Linked DNA regions of Homo sapiens: region 2 is linked to region 1. A link means that fine-mapping ties the variant in region 1 to the expression of a gene that starts in the linked region. Tissue or cell type: left ventricle. Region 1 holds a variant in brackets; the other region holds the start of a gene. All regions are shown on one strand. Distances are from middle to middle.

Region 1 (4,388 bases):
CAGTTCATTGTTTTTGGGTTTTGTTTAAATTTTCCCTGGTAGCTTCCTCTTTGATCCAAGGATTATTTGAAAGTATGTTGTTCAATTTCTGAGTATTTAGACATTTTCACACTATCTTTCCGTTATTGATTTCTAGTTTGATTCCACTGTGCTTGAAAAAAACACCCTGTATTATTTCAATCTTTTATTTACTAAGTTTTTATTTTAATAGGCCAGAATATGATCTATGTGGCTATATGTTCTGTGGGCACTAGAACGATATGTATTATGCTGTTGCTGGGTAGAGCGTTCTGCAAATGTTAGAGATCCTGTCAGTTGATGGTGTTGTTGAGTTCTTCCATGTCTTTGCTAATTTTTTCTCTAGTTGTTCTATCAATTGTTGAGAAAGGGGTATTGAAATCTCCAAATATAATTGTGGGTGTGTGTGTTTCTCCCTTAGTTCTATCAGTTTTTATTTCACATATTTTTGCAGCTCTTTTGTTTGGTACATGCACATTTAGGATTGCCATGTCTTCTTGTTGGATTAACCCTTTTATAACTGTAATTTCCCTGTCTGTCTTTGGTAATTTTATTTTCTCTAAAGTCTACTTTCTTTGCTATCAACATAGCCACGCCTGGTGTCTTTTGTTGATATTGCATGCAATATCTTTTTCCACTCTTTTACTTTCAACCTACCTGTATCATTAATTTGAAGTGAATTTCTTTTTGAGAACATGTTATTGAGTCATGTTTTCTCATACATTCTGCCAATTTGTTTCCTAATCAATCATCACATCATCTACATTTGACCTAAGTATTGATATGTTGGGGTTTTTATTTTTCATTTCCTGTTACTTCTGTTTTACTTTCTCTGTTTTCTTTTATTTCAAAAGGCTTTGGGGGAACAGATAGTGTATGATTACATGAATAAGTTTTGTTTTTTTTTTTTTTTTTTGAGACAAAGTCTTGCTCTGTCCCCAGGCTGGAGTGCAGTGGCGTGATCTCGGCTCACTGCAAGCTCCGCCTCCCGGGTTCAAGCGATTCTCCTGCCTCAGCCTCCCGAGTAGCTGGGACTACAGGCGCCCGCCACCACGCCCGGCTAATGTTTTGTATTTTTAGTAGAGACGGGGTTTCACCGTGTTAGCCAGGATGGTCTCGACCTCCTGACCTCGTGATCTGCCCTCCTCGGCCTCCCAAAGTGCTGCGATTATAGGCGTGAACCACCACGCCAGGCCATGAATAAGTTCTTTAGGGGTGATCTGTGATTTCTGAGATTTTGGTGCACCCATCACCTGAGCAGTGTACACTGTACCCAATGTGTAGTCTTTTACCCCTCAGCCCCTCCCACTCTTTCCCCCAAATCCCCAAATTCCACTGTATCATTCTTATGTCTTTGTGTCCCCATAGCTTAGCTCCCACTTGTGAGTGAGAACATACAATATTTGGTTTTCCATTCCTGAGTTACTTCACTCAGAATAATGGCCTGCCCTTCCATCCAGGTTGCTGCAAATGCTGAGCATGTCTATGGCTGAGTGGTATTCTATGGCATATACATACCACATCTTCTTTATCCACCTGTTGACTGATGGACATTTGGGCTGATTCCAGATTTTTGCAATTACAAATTGTGCTGCTATAAACATACGTGTGCAAGTGTCTTTTTCGTATAATGACTTCTTTTCCTCTGGGTAGATACCCAGGAGTGGGATTGCTGGATCAAACAGTAGATCTACGTTGGTTCTTAAGGAATTGCCACGCTGTTTTCCACAGTGGTTGTACTAGTTTATGTTCTGACCAACAGTGTAAAAATGTCCCCTTTTCACCACATCCACACCAACATCTATCACTTTATGATTTTTGATTATGGCCATTCTTGCAGGAGTAAGGATGACATTGCGGTTTTGATTTGCATTTCCCTGATAATTAGTCATGTTGAGCATTTTTTCATATGTTTGTTGGCCATTCGTATATCTTCTTTTGAAAATTGTCTGTTCATGTCCTTAACCCACTTTTCGATGGGACTGTTGGTTTTTTTCTTGCTGATTTGTTTGAGTTCCTTATAGATTCTGGATATTAGTCCTTTGTCAAATGTATGGATTGTGAAGACTTTCTCCCACTCTGCGTGTTGTCTGTTTACTCTGCTGATTATTTCTTTCACTGTGCAGAAGCTTTTTAGTTTAATTAAGTCCCATCTATTTATCTTTGTTTTTGTTGTGTTTGCTTTTGGGTTCTTGGTCATGAACTCTTTGCCTAAGCCAATGTCTAGAAGGGTTTTTCTGGTGTGATCTTCTAGAATTTTTATGGTTTCAGGTCTTAGATCTAAGTCTTTGACCCATCTTGAGTTG[A/ATT]TTTTTGTATAAGGTGAGAGATGTGGATCCAGTTGCATTCTTTTACATGTGGCTTGCCAATTATCCCAGCACCATTTGTTGAATGAGGTGTTCTTTCCCCACTTTATGTTTTTGTTTGCTTTCTCAAAAATTAGATAACTGTAAGTATTTGGCTTTATTTCTGTGTGCTCTATTCAGTTCCACTGATCTATATGCCTGTTTTTATACCAGTACCATGCCATTTTGGTGACTATGGCCTTATAGTATAGTTTGAAGTCAAGTAGTGTGATGCCTCCAGATTTATTCTTTTTGCTAAGTCTTGCTTTGGCTATGCAGGCTCTTTTTTTTTTTTGGTTCCATATGAATTTTAGGATTTTTTTTTTCTAGTTCTGTGAAGAATGATGGTGGTATTTTGATAGGAATTGCATTGAATTTATAGGTTGCTTTTTGCAGTATGGTTATTTTCACAATATTGATTCTACCCACCCATGAGCATAGAATGTGTTTTCATTTGTTTATGTCTTCCATGATTTCTTTCAGCAGTGTTTTGTAGTTTTCCCTGTAGAGGTCTTTCACTTCCTTGGTTAAGTATAGTCCCAAGTTTTGTTTTGTTTTGTTTTGTTTTGCAGCTACTGTAAAAGGGGTTGAGTTCTTAATTTGACTCTCAGCTTGGTTGCTGTTGGTGTATAGCAGGGCTACTGATTTGTGCACCTTAATTTTGTATCCTGAAACTTTGCTGAATTCATTTACCACTTCTAGGAGCTTTTTGGATGAGTCTTTAGGGTTTTCTAGGTATACAATTATGTCATCAGCAAATAGTGACAGTTTGACTTCCTCTTTACTGATTTGGATGCCCTTTATTTCTTTCTCTTGTCTGATTGCTCTGGCTAGGATTTCCAGTACTATGTTGAATAGAAGTGGTGAAAGTGGGCATCCTCGTCTTGTTCCACTTCTCATGGGGAATGCTTTCAAATTTCCCCCTTCAGTATAATGTTGGCTGTGGGTTTGTCATAGATGGCTTTTATTACCTTAGGGTATATCCCTTCTATGCCGATTTTGCTGAGGGTTTTAACCAAAAGGGATGCTGGATTTTGTCAAATGCTTTTTCTGTGTCTCTTGAGTGACTATGTGCTTATTATTTTTAATTCTGTTTATGTGGTGTATTACATTTACTGACTTGTGGATATTAAACCATCCCTGTATCCCTCCTGTAAAACCCACTTTGTCATGGTGGACTCTTTTTCATATGCTGTTGGATTCAGTTAACTAGAATTTTGTTGAGGATTTTTGCATCTATGTTCATCAGGGGTATTTGTCTGTAGTTATTTTTTTTTGTTATGTCTTTTCCTGATTTTGGTATTAGTGTGATATTGGCTTCATAGAATGTTTTTGGAGGATTCCCTCTTTCTCTATCTTTGGTATACTCTCAATAGAATTGGTACCAATTCTTTGAATATCTGATTGATAGAATTCAACCGTGAATCTGTCTGGTCCTGGACTTTTTTTTTTGGCAACTTTTTAATCACCATTTCAATCTCACTGCTTGTTATTTGTCTGTTCAGAGCTTCTGTTTCTTCCTGGTTTAATCTAGGAGGGTTGTATATTTCCAGGAATTTACTCATCTTCTCTAGGTTTTCTAGTTTACACACATAAAGATGTTTATAGTAGCCTTGAATGATCTTTTGCATTTCTGTGGGGTCAGTTGTAATATCTCCCCTTATATTTCTAATTGGGCTTATTTGGAATATAAGTCCTCTTCTCTCTTCTTTTCTTGGTTAATATCACTAATGGTCTATCAATTTTATTTATCTTTTCAAAGAACCAGATTTTTGTTTCATTTTTTTTATTGTGTTGTTTGTTTCAATTTCATTTAGTTCTGCTCTGATCTTGATTATTTATTTTCTTCTGCTGGGTTTGGGTTTGGTTTGTTCTTGTTTCTCTTGCTCCTCGAAGTGTGACCTTAGATTGTTTATTCGTGCTCTTTCATGCTTTTTGATGTAGGCATTTAATGCTATGAACTTTCGTCTTAGCACTGCCTTTGCTGTATCCCAAATGTTTTGATAGGTTGTGTCACTATTATCACTC
Region 2 (4,388 bases), 21 kb after region 1:
CTGTGCATCCAGAAGCCTGGGTGCTCCCGGACACCCCTGCTCCCCACATGCCCATCTCCCACCGTCTGCTTGGTTTTCACTCCTAAACAGTCCTTGGGTGCAGCCACTTGTCGGCATCACCACCACCCTGGGTCATACCCACTCTCGCTCTCCAGTGAGTGCAGCCAGGCTGCTGTTTGCAGGACTTAACTCTCATCCCACCAGCTGTGGCTGCCCAGCTCCTAAAGCAACACTAGGGCCCTGGGTGGGGCCTGCAAAGGCTGCGAACCCAACGCAGCTCCCCCTCTCCTAGCCCGGAGCTGGTTCCTCCTCTGTCCTCCAATGCCCCAGCCTCCTCTCTGCGTGACTGCTATATTACCACCTGACCCCTGCTCCCCGGGGCAGGGACTTTCTTAGAAGAGACTCTCCAGACAGCCAAGCACAATTGGAAGCAGCACCTGCTCAGATCTTCCAAACTGAGGCTTGGTGAGGCCTCCATTGGGAGCACTTCATTGACAAACGTTTGAAATTCTGAAGATGACCTCCGTGGGTGCTGGGGAGGGGACCTGGGGCTTGGCTGAGGCCCTGGCCCTGGTGAGTGAGGCCCTCCGGCTGGGCACCTCTGGATATTGGCTGGGAGGGCACCCAGGGCCGGTTGAGGCCGCAGCTTGCTTTTCGGCCTCTCCTTGCTGCTCCCTCCCCACATGGCCTTGGGCAGGTGACTGCTAATGTCGGTGACCAGGCCAGGCTGCCGCCACCCCCACCCCATTTCCCAAGCCTGGCTGCTGGTGGCAGGGTCTGGTAGAAGTGCTGTGGCCTCCACGCAGGCATCCCTCTCCATGGGATCTCCATGGAAGAGCGTGTGCTGGTGCCTGGGTGTCGGGACCCCATAAAAACCACGGGTGACCCCTGTGCAGGGGCTGGGGCTGCTGGGACTGTGGATGGTCCCCCTAAGCCCCATGAGGCACATTTCCCAGGCATGGCAGCATGGCGGTACCTCTCTGGGGCTGTCCCTTGTGCATGCACTCTTACTCCAGCAGTCTCTGGTCCCTCTACCTTTCTCTAGTGGCCCTCGGGCTGAGAAACCATGAGAGTGTGTCCAAAGCAGGCAGCGGCCTTAAAGAAATGCCAGCCCACCTCCTCCCCACCTAGTGTCCAAAAGAGCTGCATGTTGGAAGCAGGGGTCTGTGCAGCCCTCCCCTCTCCCCTGGTACACCCTACTTGGGGAGCAGATTTGCCTGGGCAGGTCTGCACGGGGTCTGCTCCCTGGCCCAGCAGTCACTGGTGAGACACCCAGCCCTGGCATCCTCTGTTCCTAATTCCCATGAAGGTGCCTTTTGTGGCTGCACCTACTTGCATAAGGACTGAGGCATCGGCCAGGAAAAGACGTCAGGCTTGGCCAGCTCCATCTAGCAAGACACTCCAGGTCACCGGGGAAAGGGCTTTTCACTAAAGCCTCCAGGGAGACTTTGGAACATGAGCAGCACAGCTTGGAGACGAGCCAGCAGAGCACGTGACAGCGAGGAGGCAGCCGTGCACGTCGTCACCCAAGCCCCAGGCCACAGCATCCACGGGAGAGACTTTCCTGCAGCACTGCGTGTTGGGGGTAGGGAAGAGAACAAACTTAATCCTGGGCTGTTACGGGAAGCCCTGACGAGCCCCAGGAATATCAGGGACTGCAGGAAGGGTTCCAGTGTCACTGGGGAACCCGGATTCCCACAAATGCCTTGCTTCCCACAACCCGGCCTCCTGGTCCCACATGCCTCACCTGTTGTTCCAGCCTCTGCACCTGCTCACATCTCTGGGGAGTCACCCGATGGGGCTCCCCAGTCCCCGCAGCAGCATTTTCCTCTGACTCTCAGGGCCCTGCTCTGCCTTCTGTGCTCAGCAGTTGTTTCGGATTGGGAGTCAGGAGGCCATTCCCACACTTGAAACAAGGCTGCAAGAGGAGGCTGAGCAGAAACCGCACACCCCGAGGGCAAGGCGACATGCTCATTGCCCTTGCGCCCTTCCTCCTTCCCCAGGAGCAGGACTTCTGGCCGCTCTGAGTGCACGGGTGACGGCTGCCGTTTATCAGCCTTCAAATTTGTGCCCGAATCACCTGCTTCCAACTCCTCAAATACAGACTGGCTTAGCTCAGCCTGATTAAGACCAAATTAGGAAGGGCAGCTGTGTTCCACCAGAGCCCAGGGAGCCAGGCAGAGGGCAGGAGGATCAGGCCACCAAAGGTCACCTACACACAAGCCCGTACCGGTGATGTCATCGTGGATGGAGGAGATGGGCTGGCATTTTTTAAGGCTGGCCCCCTGCCTGGGACACACTCTACATGTTTCTAAGCCTATGGGCCACTGGGGAGAGCTGGAAGGAGCCAGGCACAGCCACAGGGAGGTGCCACCATGCTTGGGAAACACCTCGTGGGTCTGGGCTGCAAATGACCATCCACAGTCCCAGCCCTGGCAAAGGGGTAGCTCATGGTCCTTATGGGGTCCCGACACCCAGGCACCAGGACACGCTCTTCCACGGATGCAGGTTAGATAAGAAACCACCTTCAGGACTCTCCTACACATCTCTTCACACCTGTGCACAAAGGAATCAGCAAAAGATCCCCTCCCAGCCTGCTGTGACCGCAAAATTCCATACCCAAGACCAGGGCTGCTTAAATAATTTGAGCTCTGCAATGGAAACCTACAAAGCCACTAAAAGCAGCAGAGAACGCTGGTGAGCAGCTGTGAGTGGCAGCTGAGATTCATTACAGTTCCACAGTCGGACTCGGGAAAATGCTTCCGTGTGTGTAGCAGGCTGTGATGCGGTGTGTGGTCCCAGCTGAGGCCCCCACACTGACAGCAGTAAGAGCCGAGTATCTCACATCCTAAAGATGCCGGTCCGTGCCCGAGAGCAGATAGTCTATGAGACCTTAACCGGGGCTGTCCCAGATGCCACTCTGAGCCCTTCTGGAAGGGTGAGTTTGATCAGGGAGATGGCGAGGGAGGAGTCCTTGTCCAGGAGCTTTGGGGACAGTTTGACAGGAGCTTTTGGGATGTCAACCTTGCTCCTACCATGGGGAATGCAGAAGGGGGCTCCCCCCCCCACCTCTCCTCACATCTGCTCCACCTCAGCCCAGATCAGAGGCAGGGAGGAGAGCCTTGAGGAGCCCCGGAGTTGGGTGCACTGACTGGACCCCGCCCTGAGTAGAAGAGGGAGGCTGGCCTGGAGGGGCTGCAGGAGAACAGCAGAGTTGCTCAGCAGGACAAAGGAGACACTGCGGAAGGGGTCTGAGTTCAGGTCATCTTGACTGGTTTCCTCAGCACGGCCCATCATGAGGCAAAACCCTAAACGCTGACTCAAAGTCTGGGAACGGAATGGGCTGTTTTGTCCTTGGCTAGAGCCCTGCCAGCTGTCCCGTTCCCTCTAAGTGCTGCATGCACTGTGGACGTGGCATTCCCTCTAAGTACTGCATGCACTGTGGATGTGGCCTGCCCTCTAAGTGCCGCATGCACTGTGGACGTGGCATTCCCTCTAAGTGCTGCATGCACTGTGGACATAGTGTTCCCTCTGCCTGGTCCTCCTATGTGAAATCCCCTTCCCAGCCAGCCAGCGCCCCCACCTGCACTCCTGGCCCCACCCTTGAGGTCCTTTCTGGGGTGGCTGAGCTCTTCTGCAAGACCTGTGTCCGGGCTTCCCTCCACCACAGCTCAGACCCTCCCAGGGGCCCATGTCCATGTCGGTAGAATGCATGAGGGACGCCCAAGCCCATTCGGTCCCAGATGCCTCCTTCGAGGCAGGGCCGTGTGTGTGTCATCAGCATCACACACTCACACACACTCACCCGCAGGCAAAGCCCCTCCCTGAGCCCAGGAAGGCTCCAAAAGGGGCGTGGTCACAGCCTCCTGCGCCTTCAGGGGCGGGAACCCAGAGGAAGAGCAGCCCACGTGCGGACTCCGCAGGAATGAATGGACACAGTTGGGAGGAGAGGGGAGTTTCTTGGAAGTAAATTCCCCCTGACATTGAGATAACTGGTTCAGGGTCCCATCCACAGAGTACGTGCCTGTTAGCAGGGCAGGAGGCCAGAGGGCGGGGCCTCGGGAAAGCTGCCCAAGCTCAGCAGGGACTCCACTGCTCACAGAGCAAGCAGCCCGACTTGTTCAGCTTGGAATCTGGGCTGGGACCGCTGGGGTCAGCAAAGAAGATCTAGGAGACATCCCATAAAATATCAGACTATCAGGATCCAATATAATACGTGTGATATTGAGCTCATTGCACAGAAGCTACAAGTAAACATTGGGTTTAGGCCACTCAGGGAAAAATGACGGAGCCTCATTTCCATAAGGAGCTGGCCTCATTTGAAAGCTTTCCACCCCACCTCTCGCCTCACCTCCCCCGCGCTCCTTTCTTGCTTCATAAACTTTCAC

Which allele goes with the higher level. Alleles are on the strand shown, and positions count from the first base shown. SD is a standard deviation of normalised expression in the study named.
With allele A in place of ATT in region 1, the expression in left ventricle of the gene that starts at base 2,137 in region 2 is lower (moderate effect, 0.41 SD a copy in GTEx).

Evidence for each region. PIP is the estimated chance that this variant, and not a neighbour inherited with it, causes the effect. A credible set is the group of variants that fine-mapping cannot tell apart.
Region 2: LINC02348 starts here. The variant in region 1 is the best candidate, but not a certain one, in a credible set for the expression of LINC02348 in left ventricle (GTEx, PIP 0.57).

The regions. Positions count from the first base shown.
Region 1 is chr15:101,591,376-101,595,763 of GRCh38, forward strand. No RefSeq gene overlaps it. Among named protein-coding and RNA genes, the nearest start is that of LINC02348, 21 kb to the right of the region's middle. The variant A/ATT (reference allele first, on the strand shown) is at 2,325.
Region 2 is chr15:101,612,203-101,616,590 of GRCh38, forward strand. LINC02348 (long intergenic non-protein coding RNA 2348) reads right to left here and starts at 2,137. Exons shown (of 3, transcript NR_147041.1): 1 at 1,748-2,137; 2 at 1,333-1,572. RefSeq lists enhancers at 128-628, 1,447-1,965, 1,966-2,482.